Linked DNA regions of Homo sapiens: region 1 is linked to region 2. Evidence: fine-mapped expression QTL. A gene starts in region 2. The other region holds a variant in brackets. All regions are shown on one strand. Distances are from middle to middle. Region 1 overlaps CRY2 (cryptochrome circadian regulator 2). Region 2 holds the start of CRY2 (cryptochrome circadian regulator 2).

Region 1 (2,786 bases), 20 kb before region 2:
TATAGTCCCAACTGCTGGGGAGGCTGAGATAGGAGGATCACCTGAGCCTGAAAGGTTGTGGCTGCAGTGAGCTGTGATCATACCACTGTACTCCAGCCTGGGTGACAGAATGAGATCCTGTCTCAAAAACAAACAAAAAAACAAATGTAGACACAACGGCTAGGCATGGTGGCTCACGGCTGTAATCCCAGCACTGTGGGAGGCCAAGGCAGGACAATTGCTTGTGCCCAGGAGTTCGAGACCAGCCTGGGCAACATAGCAAGACCCTATCTCTACAAAGAATGTAAAAAATTAGCTCTACTTGAGAGGCTGAGGCAGAGGGATTGCTTGAGCCCAGGAGTCTGAGGTTTCAGTGAGCTGTGATCAGGCCACACTACACTCTAGCCTGGGTAACACAGCTAGACTTTGTCTCTTAAATAAACAACAGAAACAAAAAACATAGGCACAAGATGAGGTGATCCCTCTGAATGCTGACTGTGTTGCCCTCTCTCCTTCTGGGGACAGTTAACACAGGCTTATTTGCTTCTTGTCTGTATAGCACAGCCCTGTGTGCAGCCCCTCCACACCACTCCCTCCATCACTGATGGGCAACTGCTGTTCCTGGACTCCCCTTTTGAATGCTGTGGACACAGCTCCAGAGCGGGCAGCTATGCTCTTCCACTTCAGACTGGCTCCAGCCTCACCCTCTCCATGCCTCTCACCCTGGGGACCTCGCCCCTGTCCACCAGCTGCCAGAGGATATGCCACCTCTAGGGTCACACCTGAGGCCTGCTTTTCTGCCTGTCCTTCTGCTCTACATGATGGTCTGGGCTTCATTCTGGTGGGCAGTTCACTCTGTGCTTGGCTCTGCCCTCTTGGATATTGAGTCTTCTCTCCTCCTCCGGACTATCTGCACACACTTAGGCCCTTCCAGGGGCCATAGCCCAACCCCCACCCACCAGTGCCTTTTTTAGGGTGACTGACAAGCCCAAAAGGCCTGGCTGCAGGCCTTAGGTGCAATGTGGGCAGGTATGTCCCCCTTACCTTTTTATACAGGTCCCACAGGCGGTAGTAGAAGAGGCGGCAGGAGAGACAACCAAAGCGCAGGTAGGGGCTGAGGCCTGTGGGGCTGGCCAGGAGGGAGTTGGCGTTCATTCGGGGTCTCTCATAGTTGGCAACCCAGGCCTACAGCAGAAAGAGAAGGTGGCAAAAGGAAAGGCTTGGA[T/A]GTAACAGAGGAAAAAATGGAGGCATTGGGTGGTTAAGGAATCTGCCTACGGTCACAGAACAGCCAGCCATGGAGCCATGGAACACTGTGCTTGTCCAGCCGATTTTGAGACGGAACCACCATCAGACCAAACAACGAGTCTATGTCATTCTCTGACTTGCTCTTTAATTTGTGGGGTGACTGTGAACACGTTGTTACTTCCCTCAGCTACGTATCTATTAAATAAGAACAAAATTTCCAATCTTCTGTGGATTAAAATGAGATATGAAAGAATTCTGAAAGCACTGAATGAACTCTCTAATTATACAGCAGGAAACAAGGCTTCTATGTTACAGAAAAGAATATCTCAGTCCCTTCTCTAGTCACTAGCGGCCCTGAGGTTGTATCACAGACACCAGGGACTTCGCATTATTGTTCAACAGCAGCTGGGGAAGGAGGAAACTTCCAATCCATTCCTGGGGACCAATGGAATCATTCATTTCTGGGGCCATGTGTCATATAACATTACTGGTCATGTTTTTATCATCACTGGTTGCTGGCATAGGACTTTACTTTCCTGACTTGCTGTTCCATGCAGTCTCTCACGACTTTTTTTATTTATTTTTTTTTCTTTTTTGAGACAGAGTTTTGCTCTTGTCACCCAGGCTGGAGTGCAGTGGCGTGATCTCGGCTCACCGCAACCTCCACCTCCCGGGTTCAAGGGATTCTCCTGATCGCCCACCTTGGCCTCCCAAAGTGCTGGGATTATAGGTGTGAGCCACTGTGCCCGGCCTATTTCCACTTTCTTAACTCCCAACATCCTCTCCTCCTCTCCATGATACTGTTTCACAACCTTGACTCTCTTCAGCCTCCTGAGTAGCTGGGATTATAGGCACCTGCCACCACACCTGGCTAATTTTTGTATTTTTAGTAGACATGGGGTTTCGCCATGTTGGCCAGGCTGGTCTCTAACTCCAAACCTCAGGTGACCACAAGGCTGGTTCCCACAAGAGTCTCCTGTGACTTCTGTGCCACTGAGTCCTGCAGGCACTTTCTGACCTTGTATTTTGGGATCTCTCAGCAGCGCTATACCTGCCAACTGTGCTGTCTTATCCTCTTGATTCCTTGGCCTCTGTGACTCCACATCTCCTGGTATCTCCCAGCTGCCTGGCGCTCTTGGTCTTTCATCAGCTCCACCTCCTCTGCCTCTCCCTTAAATGTGGGTACCCAGGGCTCAGCTCTAGGTTCTCTACTCAACTGTGTGCCTCAGCAAGCTCATCCAGGCCCATGGCTCCCAGTTCCACCCCTTTGCAGACAACCACCACATCCATAGCTCTAGCCCAGATTGCTCCACCCAGCTGCCTGCTAGAAACCTCTACTTGGCTGCCTCTCAGGCAGCTCAAGGGAGATGTGCCCTTTTCTTTTAACCCACCCTTCCATTGGCCTCCCTACCTCAGATAATACACTGCTAGCTACCTAGCTGCCCAAGGCACAATCCTAGCCATCACCTTTGTCCCCTCACCAAGTCCTGTCAATTCTACTGCCTAAATATTTCCCAAATCTGTCCTTTTCTTTCCATTCCCTGCTGCCACCAACCTGGTTC
Region 2 (2,786 bases):
GAGTTTAATCAACAGGAATTTTATTGTTGATTTTTAATCTTCCCTATCAAAAAAGAGTAGGCAGTACTATGCAATGTCCCCCAAAACCCAATAAAAGAAGAAACTCTGTGACAATGTAACAAGAAGGTAGTCGGATTCCATTTGCCTGGCTCCGACTGGTGCAGGGCAAAGTCTGAGGCTTGGCTTAATGTGCACACTAGGGATGGTCATTTGATGATGCTTGTCAAACCCAACCTCCTATCTGTAGAAAACTGGAGCAGAGACAGAGCAATAAGGCAGCCTGAAAACTGTGGGCAGGCTCTCCACAGGACTCCTTAGTTGTTCCTTCTGGGCAGGAGGGGACACTGAACAGGCCCACTGCTAGCAGCACTCACTCTCTTAGCAGGGCACACACCTTGGAGAGAAAAGAATGGTGTGCCGAGAGCCACGGTATCCTGGAAATAACCCTGTCCATCGATGCAACAAGGCCACAAGCAAACATTCCCCAGAACAATGCAAACAAACCGAGCGACTGCCACTAGGTGTTCTGAAGAGCGATGGGTACATTATGTCTCAAAACTCTTTAGTTTGAATACTGTTTACAGTGAAAATACACTAACGACCTGTTCATCTTTTTCCATGATCATGTCGACTCCATCTCCTGGGGGGTCATCAGAGGGGCCCTTGATATCATGGCTTTCCTGCTCCCTAACCTTACCACAACAGTTCATAAAAGTCTCATCTCTAATGGCTCTACTGTCCTCTAAAATCATGACAAGAGGATGACGGGGTGACACTTTGGATTCTTTTAAATTTTTCTATCGAGGTCAAAGCTCCAGAGCAGGGCTTAAAACATTTTGGAGAATCCCCTGGATTCTCTGGAGCTTTGAACATAAAGCGACTCCACCTGAAGACGCCTTTGGCTTCTTTATTTATAATATAGGGGAGAAGACCTTATTTAATGCTAAGCCAGGGTCACTTGACACCCCTAGAGGCAGGACGGTCTGGGTGCAGGGTAGCCAGGATGGGTGGTAGGGCGGATTCAAACGAGCCAGAGGCTTCGGAGTGATCTCCCCGAGCCCAGCAACGGGCTCTTGAAGAATGCGAGCAAAAACCCGTCCCGCCCTCACACTACGTTATCTCCCTTCCGCCCCTCCCTGAGTAGACCGTAAGAGCCCTAGACCAGGAGCCCCTGTTCTGCCACTCACTGGCTACAAGTCCTTGGGCAGGTCGACTTTGGGTCTCCAGGGCTCAAGGGTCTCATCTGTACAACGGGGATCATGATCTCCGTTCCACAGGCAGTTGTGAGGCTCAAAGGGGTAACAGTGCGAACGCGCTTTGTCAGAGGCTGAACCCTGGCCCACCGGCGCGTTAGGACCATGACGAATTACTTCCCCGGTCTCGGCTTCTCCCCTCTGGCCTTCCAGCCGTGGCGGGGTTGGGGGGATCGTGCTGTTCGCCGGTCACCCCAGGGTCAGGGTCCTGGCTGCGTCCCCGCCACCCAGCCCCGGGTCCCCTCACCTCCATCGGTTGATCCCGACTGAGGAGGAGGCCGCGAACCACGGGTCGAGAATGTAAACGCAGCGCACGCAGCGCGCCCCGCGCACGGCCGCCAGCAACGCCGGGTTGTCGTGGAGTCGCAGCCCTTTGCGGAACCAGTGCACCGAAGAGGCGCTGTCCGTGCCGGGCGCTGGCGCCGGGGCCACAGCTGCCGCCGTCGCCACAGTCGCCGCCATGACTGTCCAGACTGCTCCAGCCACCCCCGCTCCGCCCCGGTAGGCGACGTGGACCCCGCCCATAGCCCGCCCAGTGACCTATGACGCCGCAACTCCACCCTTAGTCCCCGCCCACAGGGCCCCAGAGCCCCTCTGCCATTGGCTGAGTGCCTTCCACCTGGCGATTGGCCCAGAGGCGCCGGAACAGGCCCGCCCCCTCACGTTCCTACCATGTGTGGGTCCGCCCGGGTGGAGCTGGCATGCGGACAAGTGACGCAGGCTGGGGCTGTCCGCAGGCTGGGGCTGTCCGCGGAGTGCCGGGAGTAGGCCAAGTCTCAAGGGACAGCGGATCTCTTACCCACGTCCTGTTCAGGGCCTGCTTCTAGAAGAAGCTGCCTGGGCTGGTAGGGGTTGCTGTGACTACAGCCAGTGACTTGCAAGACTGACAGCTGACCTTCCTATTATCACCAACATCGTCACCATCACCATCTACATCATTCTACTACAGCTGCCATTTATTAAGTGCACTTTATATGGCAAGAGACATGATCATCTCCTTACGTAGACGGTCTCATTTACTATTCTCAACTCAGCCCAGTTACATTCATTTAGCGAACCCCAGTGAAAAAGCTGCTGTTGTTTTCGTTTCACAGATGAAGAAAACGGAGGGTGCCGCAGGTTGAGTGACTTATTCAATATCATAAAGCTGCTAAGAGGATTTCACCCAGATTATTCTGATTTCGAAATTTCTGCTTTTATCCACGAAGCTATACTTCTCTTTGTGCGAAGATCCTTGGTAATTCCAAGTGGCAGAGTCTAAGGACGGGGAAGGAGTGCCCTAATATGCAGCAGTAGAGGATTTGGGAGTAAGGACTGGGAATGTGGGGGACTTGAATTGAGATAGTAATTATGCCATCAGATGAATTTATTTTCTTTTAGTCTGTTTAGTAGATCCAGTGTGTGCAAAGCACTGTACTGGATTCCGGGTAGGGTTCAGAGATGTGGAGGACACTGTCCCCATTCTTCTGGGACGCCAGGTGGAACCCTCTTGGGCTAAGACGGCTTAGTCAAGCTGCAGCTTTGGGGTTATCA

Evidence for each region. PIP is the estimated chance that this variant, and not a neighbour inherited with it, causes the effect.
Region 1: its variant is the best candidate, but not a certain one, in a credible set for the expression of CRY2 in whole blood (TOPMed, PIP 0.57).

The regions. Positions count from the first base shown.
Region 1 is chr11:45,865,990-45,868,775 of GRCh38, reverse strand. CRY2 (cryptochrome circadian regulator 2) reads right to left here. Exons shown (of 12, transcript NM_021117.5): 6 at 1,024-1,164. Among named protein-coding and RNA genes, the nearest start is that of MAPK8IP1, 18 kb to the left of the region's middle. RefSeq lists an enhancer at 2,775-2,786. The variant T/A (reference allele first, on the strand shown) is at 1,205.
Region 2 is chr11:45,846,420-45,849,205 of GRCh38, reverse strand. CRY2 (cryptochrome circadian regulator 2) reads right to left here and starts at 1,731. Exons shown (of 12, transcript NM_021117.5): 1 at 1,501-1,731. The coding sequence starts at 1,715. RefSeq lists a silencer at 961-1,070 and enhancers at 1,019-1,540, 1,471-1,710, 2,071-2,120, 2,171-2,280.